Homo sapiens: one gene and its partners. The protein of the gene in region 3 interacts with the protein of the main gene of each other region in a pairwise test. Each region holds a gene or a part of one and is shown on either strand. Other genes may lie near its edges.

The links. The genes of interacting proteins can lie anywhere in the genome.
Region 1: the proteins of CACFD1 (region 3) and PITPNC1 interact in binary tests that used the Homo sapiens proteins (3 or more experiments, as listed by UniProt).
Region 2: the proteins of CACFD1 (region 3) and NDRG4 interact in binary tests that used the Homo sapiens proteins (3 or more experiments, as listed by UniProt).

The regions. Positions count from the first base shown.
Region 1 is NC_000017.11:67,688,270-67,695,289, reverse strand, and holds part of PITPNC1 (cytoplasmic phosphatidylinositol transfer protein 1), read right to left. Parts: intron 6,020-7,020; exon of another isoform or gene 5,917-6,019; intron 2,719-5,916; coding exon 2,402-2,718; 3' UTR 1-2,401.
Region 2 is NC_000016.10:58,503,132-58,510,151, forward strand, and holds part of NDRG4 (protein NDRG4), read left to right. Parts: intron 1-574; exon of another isoform or gene 575-612; coding exon of another isoform or gene 613-666; coding exon 667-772; intron 773-1,022; coding exon 1,023-1,143; intron 1,144-1,227; coding exon 1,228-1,290; intron 1,291-1,457; coding exon 1,458-1,518; intron 1,519-3,255; coding exon 3,256-3,342; intron 3,343-3,426; coding exon 3,427-3,483; intron 3,484-3,780; coding exon 3,781-3,884; intron 3,885-4,676; coding exon 4,677-4,733; intron 4,734-4,816; coding exon 4,817-4,868; intron 4,869-5,830; coding exon 5,831-5,878; intron 5,879-6,022; coding exon 6,023-6,058; intron 6,059-6,169; coding exon 6,170-6,221; intron 6,222-7,020. UniProt on the Homo sapiens protein: Contributes to the maintenance of intracerebral BDNF levels within the normal range, which is necessary for the preservation of spatial learning and the resistance to neuronal cell death caused by ischemic stress.
Region 3 is NC_000009.12:133,455,268-133,462,997, forward strand, and holds the start of CACFD1 (calcium channel flower homolog), read left to right. Parts: upstream 1-4,710; 5' UTR 4,711-4,799; coding exon 4,800-4,920; intron 4,921-5,173; exon of another isoform or gene 5,174-6,915; coding exon of another isoform or gene 6,916-6,952; intron 6,953-7,730. Other genes in the region: ADAMTS13 (A disintegrin and metalloproteinase with thrombospondin motifs 13 isoform 1 preproprotein), read left to right, coding at 18-336, 802-948, 1,276-1,452, 2,643-2,827, 3,707-3,913. UniProt on the Homo sapiens protein: Transmembrane protein which mediates synaptic endocytosis and fitness-based cell culling.

The DNA of each region.
Region 1 (7,020 bases), on a different chromosome or scaffold from region 3:
ATGCAAAGCAGCTAAAGGAATATTTACACCACCCACCCCCTTTTTAACTCACACAAAGCATATGTAGACAGAAAAACTGAACATACTTTAAGAGCACACGCTTTTTTTTCGGCTAAGAATCACACTATCATCGTAGCTTTGCAACTGATGTCTGTGGTAACATACTGGTTATAAAAGAAATGAAACTCACAAAAGGAAATTAGAACTTAGCTTCCTAAAGCATATAGAATTGTTAACCTTGACAGCAGAAGCTACTTTATAAAAAGGGAAAATAGCAATGCTCTTAATGGAAAAACTAGGTGCCAGATGTGTTTAACAGCCTGCACAAAATAAATACATTCTATGTGAAAATAATGACCCCATCCCACCTTGATTTTAGCTTGCAAATGGTAAGCAAATACATATACTATTTCAGTGTCTTCTGAAAGTAGCATTTTGCTCTCTAAAGCAAAACATTTTCATTAAGTACTACTGTGTGGAGAGGGAGGGATTGAGAAGTCCGAGGGGTCTGATAAAATATTAGGTTTTCCCACAAGCAAAAATCATGCTTCCATACCATGCATAGAAGGTGTCTTACTAAGATACTATCATTCTTAGGGAAGAGATACACTGTTGATCTAAGCTATTTGCAACAGGTTTCCTTTGAGTTCTAGGTTTATTCTTTTTTTTTAAGCTAAATATCAACCTATAGATAAAGAAATGATCTTGACAGTCTGACCTATGACTTAGAAAACTTTGGTGCTGGGCTCATGGGGCCAGCGCCTGCACCTTGGGAGAGTGTATCAACCTGAAAGACACTACACAGAGTGCTGAGCACTGAGAGGGAAGCAGGCAGGGTCCACTGGCAGAGAGGCTGTGTGAGAGAAGCAGATTATGCTCCTTGGTCTATTTTGTTTCCTTTGGGATCTGTGTTTTGGGAAGGTCCCTTTCCTGAGGTTGGAGGTTACGATCAGGAAGGCTAGCTGGGGCGTGGGCCTCCAAGTTGCCCAATTACTTCTTCTCTTCCTCTCTTGGAGGACAAAAGTCAATGCTGAGATTTGGCCTGCCCTCCCGTCTGTGTTTAAAGGCAGTGAGGTGCAAAGGTGACAGATTTCTCTCTTTGGAGCAAAGGAGAATTGTCTTTCTGTCACTTCAGTGAGTGACCTTGCCTCCTGTCAACCTTGATTCTAATCTTGCATTACCACTAGTTGAAGAAAGGAAAGCTAGACAGAAGGGCATCTATTATCACTCCTCCTTTTCACTCTACAAATAGGAGTCAGCAATTCTGCTCATTCTCTCCTCCCACTTGACAGTAGTTGCTTGATGTCTGTGACATTCCCAATATTTGTATTTCAAGTAAGGAGCAAGAGAATGACAGTCTTTTCTAAGGTCTGGTGGTAGGCAATCTGTTCCAGGGAATTCTGGATGTTACTAAGAGTAAAACAAGGAAGGGGATGGGAGACAGTTCTCTTTTTTATAGTTCATGCACCAGACATTCTGACCATGTTAAAGCCCAGTTAGCTTACTCTACCCTTGTACTTCTTTGAGTGGGCAGATAGTAAATGAATTCTATTCAATTAATTGCAAATTCTGAGAATCTTAATTGATGATGGAAGCTGACAAGTCAAGGTTTGTTGGTACCTGTAGAGAAAAAAGATGTTGCCTCACCTGGGCCTCTTGGTTCCTAAACTGAACCATTCCAAAATCAGTTATGGTCACATTCATCCATGCAATTCTTAAGGATTTCTGAGGCCACAAGGGCACAAAAGGGGAAAGTTATTAAAAGACAGAAACAAGTAGAATCTTTATTAAATTCTGTGGAAGGTATAAATGAGTTATTATTAATTGCACTTGGAGCCTCTATAGCTTGATGATTAAAATTTTCAAAAGTTTAGAGTTAATTAGGCTCCAAATCCTGAGTCAGACTAACCACAAAATAGGAATCTCAGTAACTATTGGTATTCAAGTATTAGTAATTAGCAGTTCAAAATTTAACAGCTAAGTATGTTATGCCTGAGAGTATTTTGGAGAATTTTAGATTTGATGAGAGGAAACTGACTTCACTATTTTCTACCGTACCTTGTAACAAAAGTGGTGCAAAGTTTTCATTCATTTATCCTTGAAGTCCATGCCAAACCTCATCAAATGCCCAATAACAAGGCTTCCTCTCTGGCATACAGCTATGTGGTTACAGAAGATTCCTTCTGTCCTTTGCAAGTCTTACATCTTACATCTAATATGATGCTGTGTAGCATACTTAGGGAATCATATTCTATGTGAAGTTACTGAGTCACATGCACACTGAAAGGTCGAAGGAACATGTTTGAGTGACAAAGCAGTCTTTTTCTCTATCAGAAGATTCTTAAAAAAAAACAACAACAACAAATGAAAATATAAAACCCCATGAGATATTTATATAAAGTTACTCAGATTTGGGCCGACATGGCTTATCTGAAGAGTGCATGCCGGGTAAATTCAGGGTGGCTTTTTTCTCAGGGTCTGGAAGTGTGAGAGTTTCTGGGGCAGACTTTTTCCGGGGCCGATCTTTGGGAACGGACAGAAATTCGGGTGCGTCTGTGGAGAGAGGGGTGGATGGAGCACTAGAAGGCGCACTGCGGACGGAAGAAGGCAGCAGGGGGATGCTGGAGATAGAAATTGCAGGTGGGAAAATGCCGATTTTCTTGTTGGTGGCTTCCTGAGTGGCTCGTTCAAATTCTCGGACTTCATCCATTGTCATGTCTTCAAGGAGAAAAACAGAAAGAAAAACGAGCAGTTATTTATAAGAGAGGCAAATAGATTCATCACTACCCTTGTTTTTACAGGAACTATGGGAACCCTATCATAAAGGGGCCTCTCCCGATTATACACCCAAAGTATCATTGAAATACCAAACCCCCAATTTTTTCTATTGGAAGCTACACCCTGAAAACAATATCCCTTTATGATTATCCATTTAAGATTTTCCAAAGCACTCTTCACAGTGAGTATTTTAAGTATTCTCAATAAGGACTTAACAGTAGAATACAGAACTAGACGGGGGAAATATGTGCCTGTGTGTGTGTATGTGTGTGCACCCGTGTGCATCTGTGTTGTTGTGGGTCTGGTGTGGGGTATTTGGAGCTATAATTAACTGGTCATATTTTTCATAAAGAGAAGGTAATTAAAACAATCAATGGCCCTGAAATGACACATATTATTGTCATTATTGTCAACTTTAGATCATGAAAGTATACCTTTATAGGGTAAACAGGTAAATCATCAGGATTTTTCAACATACTATCTTCTTTTTTTTTTTTCTTTCTGAGACGGGATCTCACTGCATCACCCAGGCTGGAGTGCAGTGGTGCGATCATGACTCACGGCAGTCTCGACCTCCTGGGCTCAAGTGATCCTCCTGCATTAGGGCCCCGTGAGGCTGAAACCACAGGTGCATGCCATAATGCCTGGTTTAATTTTTTTGTATTTTCTGTAGAGACAGGGTCTCGCTATGTTGCCTAGGCTGGTCTTGAATTCCTCACCTCAAGTGATCCGCCTGCCTAAGCCTCCCAAAGTGTTGGGATTACAGGCGTGAGCCACTGTACTCAGGCCAACATGCTATCTTCTTAATCAATACATATACTTTTTTATTCTGAGGGGCCACAAAGATGCTGTTGTTTCTGGTTTCCTGACTGTGTGTCGATCCTAAGAAGGTTCAGAGATTGTGTTTTAATAAATTCAGTTTCAAAAACACGTAAATCAACAATTTCACCACACCCTGCTAATCATTCCAAAGCCAAGAAAATAAAACCATTTCTTGAGGAAACTTAAAAAGAATAGAGAATGAAAGGAGAGGATCATTTAATAGTGAGGATTCTATTTAAAAGAAAAAAAAGCATGACTTGGAATTCAACAAATAAGACAGTGATACCACTGTTAATAATCATTGTTGGATAATGTAGGTTTTCCAAATACCTGAAATGTTCTTATTTAAGTGAGAAAGTAAAAACAGTATTTAAAAAATGTAAATCTTTCCCTAATGTGTTTAATGTATTATACATACTTCCTACATTTGAGACATAATATGTTGAAGATATATCACTGTGCAAAAATACAGTTCCTTAGTTCCTTCTCAGGGTCTATTTGCTCTTTATGGCTTGATATCTCTTCTCTCATGCTCAGAAACTCTATTATTACTGTTATTATTTATTTATTTATTTATTTATTTATTTGAGATAGAGTCTTGCTCTGTTGCACAGGCCGGAGTGCAATGGCGTGATCTTGGCTCACTGCAACCTCCACCTCCTGGGTTCAAGTAATTCTCCTGCCTCAGCCTCCTGAATAGCTGGGACTACAGGCACGTGCCACCATGCCCTGCTAATTTTTGTACTTTTAGCAGAGACAGGGTTTCACCATGTTGGCCAGGCTGGTCTCGAACTCCTAACCTCGTGATCCACCTGCCTCAGACTCCCAAAGTGCTGGGATTACAGACCTGAGCCACCGTGCCCAGCCTTATTACTGTTATTATTAATTATTGTTACCCTGGCTATCCCTGGTATCCTTTGCCATTTTTACTTGCTGGGAACAGGGAAAAGAGGAACCTGGGCTTATTAAAGACTGAGTCAAGGCCCAAGGCTTATCCTGGAGCAAAATGCAAAATTTAGTGCCCGCGGATTTTCTGTATCTGTTTTGGCCCCCCAGAGACCCATTTTTCATTGTTTCTTGTCCACTGCCATGTACTTAGCAGTTGAAACTTCATTAGATAATATTGGAGGGAATAACCAGCAGGAAACAATATAGCCACTTTGGAAATACTGAGTATGTAATGAATATTCATAACACAGTATTAATCCTTAGGACTTTTCTTTTTCTTTTTTTTTTTTTTTGAGACAGAGTTTTGCTCTTGTCTCCCAGGCTGGAGTGCAACGGCGAGATCTCGGCTCACTGCAACTTCCGCCTCCGGGGTTCAAGCGATTCTCCTGCCTCAGCCTCCCGAGTAGCTGGGATTACAGGCGTCTGCCACCACGCCCGGCTAATTTTTGTGTTATTAGTAGAGATGGGGTTTCACCATGTTGGCCAGGCTGGTCTCGAACTCCTGACCTCAGGTCATCCGTCCACCTCAGCCTCCCAAAGTGCTGGGATTATAGGCATGAGCCACCGTGCCCAGCTTAATCTTTAGGTTTTATAACATCTGAGCAAACCAGAAGTATTTTTCACAAAATGAAATCCTTAAGAGGATTTCCTGGGAACAATTATTAAAATTTTCTGAAAGGGAAAGTTTTTACAAAGGATATAAGTCATTATGACTATGTGGATAAGATATAAAATTCAGCATATATCAAGAAAAATTGTACCTATAAACTTACCAATTTTTAAAAACATGGAAGACTATTAAATGAGCTAAGAAGTGAGATTAAGGTTATATAAAAAGAGGCATTTATTTCACAATAAAGTTGAGACTGAGAAAAATTTTAGTGTATCAGGGTATGTTATGTTTTTGCTATGATAAATGGATATTATCTTTGAAAAAGCAGACTTTCTTAATCAAGTGGCTGAATACATTGTTCTACTCCACATAGCCAGCAGGGGGCAGAAATAATCTAAAGCACAGAATTTTGATTTTCCACTCCCAGAGGCTCTTAGAAGTTCCCGTCCTTGAAGGCTTTGAACCTGCTCAATTGAAAAGACTTATTTCCTCACTGCTGTGTTCATGGATGTTAATTTTGCCTAATTTCAATCTAATTTGTCCCTGCTTGGGTTGATGATCTAAAATTCATTTAGCACCCATGCAGTTTTTATTTGTGACAAAGAGCCACCTCCTGATTTTCACTGCTTTTCATTATGATACAGGAGAAAGACTAAGGAAAAATAAATGTGCTCCAATTTCACGGAATTCCAAAGGATAATGGAAATGTCATAAGCATTCAAAATAACCACTTTGTGTAACTTCTCCGGTGGCAGGCATCTTTCACCCTGAAGTCACGGGAACAACGCTGAGGGGCAGCCAGAGATTATGTGGGCTTTTCCATGGGAAGAACCACTCTACGTTATCACCTTCTACATAGTAAGTGGACTTTATTTTTTATTTTACTTTATTTATTTATTTTACTTTATTTATTTATTTATTTATTTGAGATGGAGTTGCACTCTTGTTGCCCAGGCTGGAGTGCAGTGGCACAATCTCTGCTCACTGCAACCTCCATCTCCTGGGTTCAAACGATTCTCCTGCCTCAGCCTCCCGAGTAGCTGGGATTACAGGCATGCGCCACCACGCCCAGCTAATTTTGTATTTTTAGTAGAGACGGGGTTTCTTCATGTTGGTCAGGCTGGTCTTGAACTCCCGACCTCAGGTGATACGCCCGCCTTGGCATCCCAAAGTGCTGGGATTACAGGCGTGAGCCACCGCACCCAGCCATGGACTTTAATTATAAAGTAATAATCACAGTAAAACTGAAAGAAAGCCAAGCCAAGGGGCTTATAAGCTGTGAGAAAATCACTGAGCTTAGCATCTTTTAGCCATCTGGTGTCTCCTCTTTACCTGTGGCTTCTTCCTTTGTTTGCCTGGTCATATTTATAGTGAATGGCTTTCAGAGTGGCTGAGGGGGAACTGGGGCCCAACATTTCTAAAAGAAAAGGTAATTGAAAGTGATAGAAATTCAAGGAGAGTTTCCTTAAAGAGCACTTCTAGGGGGAAGTCCTACTGGAATTGGTCTGTGCATAGAGAGGAAACGCCTCTTGCTCCAACAGTTTCCTGCAAATCAGATCACTGCATGCAAAATGGGAGAAGAGTTAGGGCCCTTGCAACCTCAAGGGCAATCACATGCAACCAGTTGCAGCACATGAGACTTGCAGGGCACATTCCAAAGACATGCTCCAAAAATTTAACTAAAAATTTCCAAAGTGCAATCAGAAGGTCTTCACAATTCTAAAGGATCCATTTATGACAACAGCCACATCTAAATTTCCTAGAACTACAGCATTGATTTTTTTTTTTTTGAGACAGAATTTTGCTCTTGTTGCCCAGGCTGGAGTGCAATGGCGCGATCTTGGCTCACTGCAACCTCT
Region 2 (7,020 bases), on a different chromosome or scaffold from region 3:
AACCAAAGGTGTGAACTCAAGAGGATCCCAGAGCAGGCTCTGCAGAAGGCCTCTAGAGGGGATGGGGAGGGGGGTCTGACCCGGGCCTGCCTGAAGGGAGCCCTTGAGGATGCTGGGCTCACACAGAAGGGCGTTCAAGGTGGAAGGAACCACATGCGCAAGAGCCTTAGAGTGGGAGCCAGGGGCAGTGCCGGGGTCGGGGCTAGGCTTGGCTGGCACGGGGTGTTTTCTGAGGATTCCAGGCAGGACCACTGAGGCCGTTCCCCTGCAGCAGCAGGAAGTGCCTGAGAGTTCTGAGTGTGAGAGGGACTTGGGCTGGGGAGGCAGAGCTGTCCAGGAGGGGCTGCTGCAAGATGGAGAAAAACAGCCTCCCTGGACCCTCAAGGGCGGAGGACAGTGACAGCACAAACCAGTGGCTGGTTTGCAGAGAGGACCAGACCTTCCCCATGCAGATCAGTTCACATTGTCTCTGTACTGAACAGCCCTGAGAAGGGGTGTTCCATCCATTCAGTCCTCTCTGGGGGCTTCTTGGGGTGATGAGAACAGGATGCCCCAAGTAGGGGCTCTACCACAGGCCTAACAGGTACCAGGCTGCGTCACCTCATTCCCCAGAGGAGCCAAGAGCGGAGGCTGCCCAGAGTGTCCAGCACGGTCTCTCCCCTTCAGGAACATGACATCGAGACACCCTACGGCCTTCTGCATGTAGTGATCCGGGGCTCCCCCAAGGGGAACCGCCCAGCCATCCTCACCTACCATGATGTGGGCCTCAACCGTAAGTGCAGCCCAGCCTCAGTCAGCCCTCCTCTGCCTCCCATCAGCCAGAGCGGTGAGGCCCCCCACCCTCCCCACAGGGCCCTGTCAGCCCCACTCACACTCACCTCTGTTGCCTTCGCCCTCCGGGCCTCCATTTCCCCGACGGACCCGAGGCTTACACTTCTGCCTTGCCTGCCCTCTGGGGGCCCGGCCTTCCTTCCAGTCCCCCGGCCCCTCTGCTCAGCCATAGTGGAAGTGTGTCTTTGCAGACAAACTATGCTTCAACACCTTCTTCAACTTCGAGGACATGCAGGAGATCACCAAGCACTTTGTGGTGTGTCACGTGGATGCCCCTGGACAACAGGTGGGGGCGTCGCAGTTTCCTCAGGGGTAGGTACCCTGAGCCCCCTCTGCCTGTCTCCAGCTCTGCACCTGAGGCCACACCTGGGCCCTGACCTCCTGCTCTGCCTGCAGGTACCAGTTCCCCTCCATGGAGCAGCTGGCTGCCATGCTCCCCAGCGTGGTGCAGCATTTCGGGTGAGTCCCCGCACAGCCCCTGCGCTAGGGCCCAGGGGTGCCTACCCCAACTGCAGAGCCACCTGGCTCCAGCTGAGGGCTTCAGGCTATGGGCAGGGCCTGCTCTGGATGACATGTATGGGAAATGGCACCCCTAGCCCTAGAGTGACCAGCCTGCTCTGCACCAGGTTCAAGTATGTGATTGGCATCGGAGTGGGCGCCGGAGCCTATGTGCTGGCCAAGTTTGCAGTGAGTCTCCCCATGCCCCCATTACCCCAAACACCAGGGCAAGCCAGGGATGTCCCAGTGGTGGGGACTGGGGGGAACCCTTCAGCCTTGAGGAAGTGTCCCTGCTCTCGCTTCTCCTCCTCCCACCTCCTCTTTATGTAGAAAACCTCTTTTTTCTTTTTTCCTCCAGGGAAATTAACTTTTTTAAAAAAGAGGTTCCTTTCTCCATATAGTTTTCTCAAGAGACTAGAAACTATAACTTGCTTAAACTATTATCCAAAGCCAGAATTTCTAGTAGCAACAAACTATACAACTAACTGCTCTAGCCACTAAATAAGGATCGTCCTTCACTAATTGCCATGGTATTTCAACATGAATAATTTTTTTAGCAAAAAATTTTATTATGGTTGGGAGGTTTAAAGAAGGCACATTTCAAAAACATCATTGTCGGTGGCTCACACCTGTAATCCCAGCACTTTGGGAGGCCAAGGTGGGCAGATCACGAGGTCAGGAGATCAAGACCATCCTGGCTAACACGGTGAAACCCAGTCTCTACTAAAAATACAAAAAATTAGCCGGGCGTAGTGGCGGGCGCCTGTAGTCCCAGCTACTCGGGAGGCTGAGGCAGGAGAAAGGCGTGAACCCGGGAGGCGGAGCTTGCAGTGAGCTGAGATCGCGCCACTGCACTCCAGCCTGGGCAACAGAGCGAGACTCTGTCTCAAAAAAATAAAAAAATAAAAAAAATCATTGTTGGGTAGGAATTCACAAGCTTTTCATCTCTAAAAACAAGCAAAAAAAAAAAAAACAAAAACCCAAAAGACTAATTTTTCACGATCGAAGACATTTACTACTTCAAAAGAAATGACCAAGAATTTTCAACTCCAGTTGCAATGTCAGCACTTAATCATTTTGTTAACTGGAGGCCATTCCCTGCCACCCTAGACAAGCTTGATGTGGTTATGCTGTTTTTCTTTAAGCACAGTCTAACAGTTGAAAAGAAAATACCTCTTTTGCAATGCCTACGGCAAAACAGACTTTGAAAAGGTTGTTTTTTTCTTAATTTATATCATGAGGGCTTCATTTTCTTTTTTTTTTTTTTTTTTTTTTTTTTGAGATGGAGTCTTGCTCTGTCGTCCAGGCTGGAGTGCAGTGGCATGATCTCGGCCCACTGCAACCTCCACCTCCCTGGTTCAAGCAATTCTCCTGCCTCAGCCTCCTAAGTAGCTGAGACTACAGGTGCATGCCACCACGCCTGGCTAATTTTTGTATTTTTATTAGAGACAGGGCTTCACCATGTTGGCTAGGCTGGTCTCGTATGCCTGACCTCAGGTGATCAGCCCGCCTTGGCCTCCCAAAGTGCTGGGATTACAGGCGTGAGCCACGGCGCCTGGCCAGGGCTTCATTCTCTATAAAAGCAAAAAAACAACATGCTTAAGATTTTAAGATGTTTAATACTCAATTTTGCACTTCAAAAATATATTAAGAGCTGATTCTGTTGAAAGAGCGTGTGTGTGTGTGTGTGTGTGTGTCTGTGTGTGTGTAGGGGTGGAAACAATGATAGAGATTCTAAATAAATCCAAGAACTGTGAAGGGTTCAGTGAGAGGAGGACAGGCAGGGGCATCTGGACATGGGTGTGCATGCACAGACCCGGCTGTAGCCGGGTGGCTGATCAGCAGCACCTTGAAGACTTTACAGAGTGTTTCTGCCATCTGCACCCATCCTGGCCCCGCCCGGCCCTGTTTCCCCTCTTACTGCAGCTCATCTTCCCCGACCTGGTGGAGGGGCTGGTGCTGGTGAACATCGACCCCAATGGCAAAGGCTGGATAGACTGGGCTGCCACCAAGGTGTGTGTGGTGACCGGGGGTGGGGTGGGTATACCTAGGGTGGGGTGAGGGGCGGCACTCACGCTGGCGCCCTGCTCCCTGCAGCTCTCCGGCCTAACTAGCACTTTACCCGACACGGTGCTCTCCCACCTCTTCAGCCAGGTAAGGGGGGGAACTTCTGCAGATCTGGGGTGATCTGGGATTTGCCCCTCCCAGCTGGCTCGGTAGGAGGCAGGCGGGTGTCTTTGGCATCTGACCTGGCTCACTCCAGATGCTAAGCCATCTGAAAGACAGACATCCCCTCCCAAGGCCCCACACCTCCTACCTGCCCCCACCCTGTCTCCCCTGCCTGCTGAGTGGGGCAAGGGCCACTCTGGCAGTGACATCTGCCAGCCCCCTCTAAGCCTGCGTCCCTCTGTCTGCCCCTCTGCATGCCTCCATCCATCTCCCTGGGCCTAGGAGGAGCTGGTGAACAACACAGAGTTGGTGCAGAGCTACCGGCAGCAGATTGGGAACGTGGTGAACCAGGCCAACCTGCAGCTCTTCTGGAACATGTACAACAGGTGCGGGTGGGATCAGCAGCCCTGGGACCCAGCACACCCCAGTGGGGGCCCTTGCACACTGCCCCCTGAGGGAGGCAGGCAGACAACACCCTTGCCCTGGTTTGTAGATGGGCACGATATTGGGCCTCAAAGGAGGTCATTTCCTGCACAAGGTCACACCCTGTGAGGGGCAGAGGGGAACAGGGTTTCAGACTCCGGGCCTTGGGCTCTTCCACTTTTCCTCCTCCCCTGGGGGCTTCCCGCTTGGGAATGTTGGGGGTGTTAGTGACATCCCTGACTCCAGTAACCCAGCCTTGATGTTGACGTCTGCAAAATGAGGAAGAGGTCGGATGAGCCTGTGGTTTTCAAGCTGTGCTCCTTGGAGCCCCCTTTAGGGGCTGCCCTGCCCTGCAGGAAGGTGGCCAGGCCCCCTCACTCACGTGCCCTCCTTCTCATTCTTCTACAAATATTAAGCACCTGCTGTGTGCATGGTGCTAAGAAAACAAAACAATAGAGAATAGAGAGACCCAGGGCCTGCCATCCCATATGGTCCAGGAGACAGGCCAGTAGCAGAAACTCCCACAGCACAGGTGGCGGTGCGCATGGCTCTGAGGGGGATAGAGAGCAAAATTTGAGAGCCCACCTGGTATGTGCTAGGGAGTCCAAAAAGCCGTGACAGGGAGCCTCCAGTTCATTTATGCAGAGCAGGTCCACGCCTCCCTGCTTTACCAATTGGCAGTGTTGGGCTTGGGATGCCCCTCATCCTGTCCTGGGGTGCCCACCTCTGCCTCTGCCCCTCCCCCTGCCCCACAGCCGCAGAGACCTGGACATTAACCGGCCTGGAACGGTGCCCAATGCCAAGACGCTCCGGTGAGTGGCCCCTGGCCCTCTGGCCTGCCCTGGCCTTTGCCCCCATGACCCAGCCAGACAGCCCTTTTCCTCTGTATCTGCAGCTGCCCCGTGATGCTGGTGGTTGGGGATAATGCACCCGCTGAGGACGGGGTGGTAAGTGAGGGGCTGTGGGCTCACTGGGGGTGGGAGGTAGGGGTGAGGGGCTCACTGGCCCCTGCCCAGCAGGGACAATTCTTGATCCAGCCCAGGGGAGCCTCCAGGGCCAGCAGTGGACGGTGGGCTTCTTGTCCACTTTCCCACAGTCTTGCCAAGCCTCACATCTGGCATAGCCCCCATCCTTCTGGCTGGGGAGGCCTGGAAATGGGGAGAGCTGGGGCCAGGGCTGGGCCATCAGAAGGTCCCCTCTTCCCTCCCCAGCAGCACAGCCCCAACTTGGTCCCTACCCACCTCAGGCCCAGGGTGTACGATCTTTTTTCTAAAATGTGATCAAGCCATTATAAATCATTAACGCATACAGCGGCACGGTCTCCCTTTTCCCGTCACCTGCAGCGGTTATGTTTGGGGGCCGTGTGTCACCTCTCCTGCTGGAACTCTGGGAGCAGGTGGCCTGAGGCTGGGATGCCCCATCAGCACAGAGCTGCTGGGAAGCTGCAGGGTCCAGAAGTGCCCAGAGCAGCCCCGTGCGCCCTGAAAATACCAGGCTTTCCCATGCCCACTGGGAGGTCCTGGAAGAGCAGGGTGGTGGGCTGTGCCAGCCCCCTCCACCCAGTCTCTCTCAGACCCTCGGCACCCCTCACCTCACTGCCGAGGGCACTGGGGCTTTCCCAGGCCAGTCCCACCACGGCAGCCCAGCCCTCGCCTGACTCCCACTCCTAGCAGTTGTGAGTGGGCTCCAAGGGTCCCAGGCCCTTCAGTGGGGCTGTTAAACTGGTCTCCAAGAACATGGGGAGCCCTGGGAGAAGAAAGCCTGGGAGGAGCAGCCTGTCACAGCTGCTGGGCCTCCCTCTGCCTCCCTGCACCCCCTCTCCTCCCCGAGCTTGGGGCATCAAACCTGCCTTGGCAATGGGGGTGGGGAGGGGCAGGGGCTGTTGCTGAAGCTGGCTCCTTGTCCTCAGGTGGAGTGCAACTCCAAACTGGACCCGACCACTACGACCTTCCTGAAGGTGAGGCTTTCTTCCCCAGCCCTGGGCCAGCTTCCCTAGCATGGGCCCAACCTCAGGGAGGTGTTTTCCTGGGGTCCCAGCCAGGGTGGGAGCTTGTCCTGGAGTGAGGGCCCTGCTCAGGTCACCCCACTCTCTCCCTTGCAGATGGCAGACTCTGGAGGGCTGCCCCAGGTCACACAGGTGAGACTTTTGGCCCTCCTGCCCTTACATCTATGGGGAGGGGGAAGCCTCTACCCTACCTGCTAATCCTAGGCAGCCAATGAAAGCATGTGCTTGTCCTGCCCTCCGCAGCCAGGGAAGCTGACTGAAGCCTTCAAATACTTCCTGCAAGGCATGGGCTACAGTGAGTACATTTCCACCCCACCCCACACCACCTAGAGACCGGTGGGCAGGCAGTGCTGGGGTTGGGGCTCCTGTTTGCAGGGCTGGCACGTGGTGTCAGGTGGTAGTAGGGAGCCCATAAGCATAGGAGTTTTGTGTGACCTGGGCCCCGGATGCTGGGCCCCACAGATGCCACCTGAGTTGCAAGTTGGCCATCCCAGGCTGTGCCCAACTCCCCTTTGCCCTTAGGGAGGACTTGGCGCACTGTTCTGATGGCAGTGCTGGGCCTACTGGGGGAAGGGACTCTTCCTTCCGTGCTGGGGGTCCAGGGCCAGGGGCCGTGTCCTGCCAGGGAAGCCTGTCTGGGGGTGAGGCACACTCCCCTCACCCGCCCCAGGGCTTGGGGTCAGAGCTGGGTCTATGGCACCTGAGAAGGCCTTTTGAAACAACTCATGGCTGCACCCAGGGGCATCATAGGAGTGGGCTTGGAGTTTGGGGCCAGGGAAGGCAACTGGGGCCGCCTGGCATTCAGAGAGCTGAAAGCAGCTGAACCTGGCTTGGCAGATCTGAAAATCTGGGTCTGGGGTGGAACCAGGTACACACACACAGACACACACACACACACACACAACACACCCCTTGTGTGTCTCCTTGACTTCCCCCTTCCCTCCAAGACATACCTGTTCCTCCAGGTCCCCACTGCCAGGAGGCAAACTTCCTCTTCTCAGTTTGTTTTTTGTTCCCCTCCAGACTTCAGCCTCTGGAGCTATCTCCAGGGCAAACAGGAGGGCTGCCTGTGGGAAGGCTGGGGAGGACACCCA
Region 3 (7,730 bases):
CTCCCCTCTCTTGGCAGTGCTCTGTTTCCTGTGGGGATGGCATCCAGCGCCGGCGTGACACCTGCCTCGGACCCCAGGCCCAGGCGCCTGTGCCAGCTGATTTCTGCCAGCACTTGCCCAAGCCGGTGACTGTGCGTGGCTGCTGGGCTGGGCCCTGTGTGGGACAGGGTACGCCCAGCCTGGTGCCCCACGAAGAAGCCGCTGCTCCAGGACGGACCACAGCCACCCCTGCTGGTGCCTCCCTGGAGTGGTCCCAGGCCCGGGGCCTGCTCTTCTCCCCGGCTCCCCAGCCTCGGCGGCTCCTGCCCGGGCCCCAGGAAAACTCAGTGCAGTCCAGTTATGTCCTGTCCTCCTTCCTGTCAGGCAGCTGCTGCAGGAGGGGTGGGCAAAGGCATCTTCCTCTGGGAAGGACTGGCACAAGCACTTGGTCCCTGGGTTGTGTGCCTGGGAGGCCGGGATCAGGGCTGGCCCTCTTTCTCCCTGGCAAAGCAAAACCTCCCTTTTACTACTATCAAGGGGAAGTAACTTGAAGGTAGGAACCCAGCTTGTGAGCCCCCTAGCCTCTGGGCTGCTCTGCATGTGCCCCCTCTTGCTGGATCATCTGGTAGCAGCCCTGTGCCCTGAGGGTGATGCTCTGACCTATGCAGCCCCCCTCCCTGTCCTGAGAAGGCTTCCAGCTGGGCCTTGGAGGACAGGGTCCACCCCTACCTCCTGGTCTCCTTCCTCAGCTTGGAAGCCCCGGAGCCTGCCCTGCTGGGAATCGGGGAAGCACTGCTTACCTGTCTCCTGCTCCCTTTTCAGGTGCCTGTGGCAGGCAGCACCTTGAGCCAACAGGAACCATTGACATGCGAGGCCCAGGGCAGGCAGACTGTGCAGTGGCCATTGGGCGGCCCCTCGGGGAGGTGGTGACCCTCCGCGTCCTTGAGAGTTCTCTCAACTGCAGTGCGGGTATGTCTAGGGCCATGCAAGCGATGCTGCCAGTTATGGGCCCTGCCAGGAGCCAGCACGACGCTGCATGCCCCATTCCTGGCAGGAGCCCATGTGCATTCCCACCTGTAGTTTGCATCCCATCTCATGACTGGGGAGTGATGATCTGCATTTTACAGATGAGGAAACTGAGGCTAGGAGAGATTAAGTGATGTGCCCAGTTACTTAGAGTCACATAGCCAGCAGTGGGAGAGGTGGGACTTGAACTCGGCTCAGTCTACCCTGGAGCCACTCCTCTGCTGACCAGGCGTGGGAGTGCTGGACCCTCACTGCCCTGCCGCTTCCTAGGGGACATGTTGCTGCTTTGGGGCCGGCTCACCTGGAGGAAGATGTGCAGGAAGCTGTTGGACATGACTTTCAGCTCCAAGACCAACACGCTGGTGGTGAGGCAGCGCTGCGGGCGGCCAGGAGGTGGGGTGCTGCTGCGGTATGGGAGCCAGCTTGCTCCTGAAACCTTCTACAGAGGTATGGCCAGGCCTTCTCCACCTCCCTTGGGTGCTCCAGTCCTGGCAGGGAGGCTGGGTGGGTGCTGCTGGGGATGGGGCCAGTCCCAGTGGGGCAGTGGGAAGATACGGAGGGAACTGACTGAGATGGAAGGAACTGGGGTTGGCCAGTGTCAGTCTGCACGTGCCAGGGAGGGGTCACAGGATGAATGCTATATCCCTCCTTTTTGGGACCGTGCAGCAAGATGGACGGATGTGGGACATGGTCCACATCCTCAGTCAGTCCCTCAGGCCTCTGCCCCACACCCACCTGCCCCGCCCCCACCCCTCCAGCCTTTCAAGGGCTTTTAGGGTTTTGTGGAAGCCACTGTCCCTCAGCCCTGTTTCAGTGCACTGGTGTAAGCAGACATGCTTGTACATGCATGTGCACCCACAAGCACACCTCAGGCAGAGGATGCCACCTCAGGGACTCCAGCCTTGCCCGTGGCCCCCTCGATATCCTCTGATAGCCCTCTCGGTTGTCCTGGGGGGCTTGCCCTCTCCCAACAGCCCGAGCTGGCCGAAGTTGGCTTCCCTAGCTGGTTCCAGAGGTTCCTCGGCTCCCCCAGGTGTCTGGGGCTTAGTGGCAACAGGGGCTTAGCCTCTGCAGAGACCTAGTGCGCCGCCTCCTTGCCCCAGACCTGCCCGGGCAGAGAGCCGTGTATGTGTCCCAGTGCACAGGCGCTGCTGGGCCCTGCCAAAAGGCCACAAGCCCACTGTCACCGTTCACATTGCTTCTCGCTTCCCGGCCCAGCCCCGCCCACACAGGCATCTGCCTTGAAAGAGGTGCAGGAGGTACAGGCAGGTGGGGGCTCCAGTGAGCTCTGAGGAACAGCAGTGGCCGCCATGGGTGGAGCCTATCTTTGTTGCCAGTTTCAGTGTTAAACACTCTTGCACGTGTGACATCATTGAGTCCTAAAGACCACTCTGCTCAGTGCATGCCATTGTTTCCTTCAGTTACAGAGGAGGGAACCAGAGCCCAGAACATTTAGCCTTTGCCTAAAGTCACTGGGCCAGGAAGTGGTAGAGGTGGGGTTCAGCAGGATTTGCCTGGGAACCCCAATATTGACCACAGTGCCATGCTGCCCTGCACGGCTCCCTGGCTGTGAGTTGTCCTGGCCTCTGGCACCACCGGTCTGTCTGGGTTCCTATGTCCCTATGTCCCACCTGCAGAATGTGACATGCAGCTCTTTGGGCCCTGGGGTGAAATCGTGAGCCCCTCGCTGAGTCCAGCCACGAGTAATGCAGGGGGCTGCCGGCTCTTCATTAATGTGGCTCCGCACGCACGGATTGCCATCCATGCCCTGGCCACCAACATGGGCGCTGGGACCGAGGGAGCCAATGCCAGCTACATCTTGGTGAGGCCCAGCATGGGGACTTGTGCTGTGATTCTGGACAGCTTTCCCTAGGGCGTGCAGGGCTAGGGGACCCCCTTCAGTTTATTTCAGACTAAAACCCTCAAAATCATTAGTGAAAGAATGGGAGAAGATAGCTTCCTCCACATATTCACCAAGAAATGTTTTTTGAGCTACCTACAAGAGTGAAATAGTGGCTCACAACTGTAATCCCAGCACTTTGGGAGGCCCAGGAGGGCAGATCACTCAAGGTCAGGAGTTCGAGACCAGCCTGGCCAACATGATGAAACCTTGTCTCTACTAAAAATAGAAAAAGTAGCCAGGCATGGTGGCGTGTGCCTGTAATCCCAGCTACTTGGGAGGCTGAGGCACAAGAATCACTTGAACCCGGGAGGTGGAGGTTGCACTAAGCCCAGATCGCACCACTGCACTCCAGCCTGGGCAACAGAGTGAGACTCTGTCTCAAAAAAAAAAAAAAAAAAAAAGCGAAATGGTAAAGAATGGTAAAGACCTTTCTGATGTAGACTGACAGCTAACCCAAGACTGAAGCATAATTTTACAGTCTGATATAACTTGGACAGAATAGCACCCTGCACCCTCCCCGAGGTTTCAAGTGTCCTGGGAGAACTGTGTTCTGCAGGGTATCAGCTTCCCCAGAGGAGGCAGCCTGGCCCCGCTCTGGCACCCTGACTGTGTGTCCTTGGGGAAGTGATGTAACGTCCCTGGACCTCGGTTTTCTGGGTAGAGTAATGGCGTATTCCTAGTAGGGCTTTGTAAGCATTAAATGTGATCCGGAATCTGTGAGCCCTTGCACACGAAGGCTTCCGTGAGTGCTAATTATTACTTGTGGCCGGTCCTTCTGGGCTGCCCCTTTTCTCTCAGATCCGGGACACCCACAGCTTGAGGACCACAGCGTTCCATGGGCAGCAGGTGCTCTACTGGGAGTCAGAGAGCAGCCAGGCTGAGATGGAGTTCAGCGAGGGCTTCCTGAAGGCTCAGGCCAGCCTGCGGGGCCAGTACTGGACCCTCCAATCATGGGTACCGGAGATGCAGGACCCTCAGTCCTGGAAGGGAAAGGAAGGAACCTGAGGGTCATTGAACATTTGTTCCGTGTCTGGCCAGCCCTGGAGGGTTGACCCCTGGTCTCAGTGCTTTCCAATTCGAACTTTTTCCAATCTTAGGTATCTACTTTAGAGTCTTCTCCAATGTCCAAAAGGCTAGGGGGTTGGAGGTGGGGACTCTGGAAAAGCAGCCCCCATTTCCTCGGGTACCAATAAATAAAACATGCAGGCTGACCGGCGTTTTTTTCTTATAAGCTGTCCAGACCTGGCTTGAAAACCCATCCCATGGCAAGGCAGGGATTCGCTGGCCGCGGTTGGCTCTATCTTGATCTGAGCAAGCCGCTGGACGTCCCTAGTTATCTTCTTCCTATCCAGGAAGAAAATCCAATCAGGATTCCACTCCGAGGATGGCGCATTAGCCAGCTCCCTGCGAAGCCCCACCCGTGTGTCCTGGTGTGAGGCTCTGACCGCTAAGGTGTCTGCGCGCCTCCAGGCCCCGCCCCCTATGCTAATAAGCGCCCGCCTCCTTTGGGAGCAAGTCGCCGCAAACTGCGAGCCCCCGCCCCCTACGCTAATGACGCCCGCCCCCCTCGGGCACACCTCTCCGATGCCTGCGAGCCCCGCCCCGTATGCTAACGAGCTCCCCACCCCCAGCTCCTCGCCGCAGCCTGCGGGTCCCGCCCCCTACAATAATGAGCACCTACCTCCCCTCAAACGCCCCTAGTCGCGGCATGAGGGTCCCGCTCACTATGTTAATGAGCACCCGCCTCCCTTCGGGCGCGCCTCGCCGCAGCCTGAAAGCCCCGCCCCCTATGCTAATATGCTCCCTCTCCCACAAGGCAGCGCGCCGGCTCGGACGCGGCCGGCTACCGAGCCCTTTGTGAGGGCTGTGAGCTGCGCCTGACGGTGGCACCATGAGCAGCTCAGGTGGGGCGCCCGGGGCGTCCGCCAGCTCTGCGCCGCCCGCGCAGGAAGAGGGCATGACGTGGTGGTACCGCTGGCTGTGTCGCCTGTCTGGGGTGCTGGGGGCAGTCTGTGAGTATCCAGTCGGGGAGAGGGGCCGGCCCCGCCGCGCATGCGCTCCTCGCCCTGCCCTGCCCCGCCCCGCCCCGGCGGCCCCAGGGGAAAGGACCCGCTGGGGGTCGGGGGTCTGCCGGGCGCCTCCCGGGGCGGAGGAATGGCGGGGCCGCCGGGAGCCGGCGTCCTGGGGTTGCCATGGTTACCCGCTCGGGCCTGGGCGCCTTGGTACCCCGGGCTGGGCTGGGCTGGCGCTTCTGGGAACATTCCCGGAGGGACCAGAAACCCCAGGGCGGGGGGGCGGCGGGGGCGGGGGTGGGGCACCGGCCTGGGGCACGTGACTGAGCCCTCCCCCCGCTCCCCAGGGGCTTTTGTGAGACTTTCTCGGTGATGCTCACGGGGCGCATGCCCACCTGGCCCGTACTAAAGCGTCAACTGTTGACTTGGGCGTAGGTGACGGCAGCCACATTGCTAACCTTTGGGCAAGGATTGTTTGTAAGGGAGGCGGGTGCACGGCTGGCTAGATTTCTGGCAGGAAGCCACTGGGCGGAAGTTTGCTGAGGGTCAGGTGGTGTCAGGGCACAGGTGGCCCCTGGGGCCGCGGGGCAGTGAGCTGAGGGCCCGGCCTCTCCCTGGGTCCTCTGTCCGCTCTCATATCTCCCCCGTTGCTGCTGCCTTAGCCGCCTGTCACCGGCCTTCCTCCCCTTCTCCGCACGCATCCCAGTCACAGACCCTGACCTTAGGCTGCCAGGGAAGCTAGGCTCTTAAGCACAGCCAGAAAAGGACAAAGAGGGAGGCAGGTCAGCTCCAGGAGTGAATGGAAGCCGTACAGCTGGCCTTCCAGGGAAAGACAAGTCTGTCTGAGTGATACCCTTTCCTTTCCTGTCTGCCCTCAATCTTGTGGATTACTGGAGTGGGCAAGGTCTTAGAGAATGTCTGTCGAGGATGTCTGCAGGTTTTAAACAGTGCCTGCCTGGCAGAGAGGGCTAGCTCTGGGCCTGGGCAGGGCAGGCCCCATCAGCAATCCTGCCAGAAGGACCACCTTTTCAGGGTCACCTTGGGTTCCACAGCCTTTCCAGGTGGGTAGAGGGTGGAGGGAGGTTGAGGCAGGAGGGTGCTGGGCTAGGAGTGTGCTGCCCTCGCTAGGCATGCCCTTATCCAGAGGCAACGGATACGGTAGGGCAGGCCCTACCCCCAAATCACAAAAAGGCCCCGAGTTTGTGTCACTGCTCTTCAGGGCAAGTACGCTTTTGACTTTGTAGGAGAGACTGGTGGGTTTGAAGTTAGGCATTGGATCCAGTCCTGTCATGTCTGGTTAGCTGTTTTCCCTGCAGATTAGGGTGGGCAGTGCAGTGGGGTGACATGGTCAGTGGTGAGAAAGGAAAGGTCCTGACTATGGCCTGTAGGCCACACCTCCTTCCTTCTTGGTCAGTGGCCCTGCCGACTCCCAGATTTGCTGTGGAGTCTTACTCAGTTCTGTGCCTCTCAAAGTGAGGTACCTCTGCCTTTCCTGGGAGTTCCTGGGGCTCTGTTGGGTCTACAGATGAAGCTTCAGGAGAAACTTGTGGCATTGCCCTGAGTTGTCAGTTGCATCTGCAGATTTTTGGGGGCATGGTTATGTGAACATCAAAATGCTGTATTACAGGGTAGAATGCAAAAATGCAGGGTGTTTTAGAGATGCGGCAGGAGTTCAGACAAGGGTTGTGTGCCGGGCTGGTCCTTGGGTAAGGTTTTCCTCCTCCAGGGTGAGGGGATCAGAGAGAGTACCTGGAGAGGGTCTACCCTGGGTCCTAAGAGCATCTGGAGGTGATACCTTGGGAGGGGACAGGATTGCATGGTGACAGCCCCCTCACGTGGAAGATATCAGCATTGAGGCCCCCAAGTGGACATCCTCCAGCCCTTTATTGCTAAAGGATTCCTGGCTGGAGCCTGCTGGTCTGGCTTGACACCTGGTCCTCCCCCAAGGCTGGCTGTGGGTTGGACAGCTGGGGTAGGGTTGGAGCTGGAGGCCAAATGCTGACTGCAGCAGGAAGCACAGCCGAGCTGTCAGGTGAGGCCAGGCACAGCAGAGAGGCAGGGAGCCGTGTCACCCTTTGGGCACTCTGCTAGGACAGGCAGGCCCCTGTGTACCTGTGGTTCTGGAACACCTTGCTGTCTGAAGGCAGATGTCTAAGGCTGTGCTGAGGAGCAGTGCAACGCTTGAGTCCTTTGTTTTAGAAGGAGACCCTGGGGGCCCATGAAGCAGTCCCATTGCAGTTCGGCTCACTTTATCTGGCTTCTTTGCCTGCTGTCTGCATAAGGTTACCTGGGAAAATGGAAAACAGCAGAATTCCAGACCCAGGTGGAGGGATCAGGTGCAGAGGAGCTGCTGCAAGTTTAATGAGCTGGGTGCTAATTGCTGCCTCCAAGGCCCCCCTCAGTGATGGCCTGGGCTTGCTCCCTGCCCAGCAGCCACCTCCTTGGACCTGCCTTGAAGGCTCCTGGAGTTCCTGGTGAAGCCAGGCTGCAGGCTGTGGGTGGAGGAGGGAGTTGGGTGCAAGAGACCCTGCTGGTGAGGTGCAGCTGGGAGGCGGGGCGTCAAGGCTGCACATCTGAGCATCAGAGAAGCCACGTTCTGGGGTGGAAAACGATGCCCCCTCCCCTTCCTGGCCTTATGGCATTTCAGCGGTGGGTGGCTGGGCTGTGGGACTTGCTCATGTGCAAGAGGAGAAACGGGTCTAGGAAGATGAAGATAGCGTGCCAGTGGCACAGGGCTGGTGAGGAAGTTAGAGCTGGAACTGCTGCTCAGTCTTACCTGGTTCCCATCTCTGTTCTGAGAGAGGCACCCC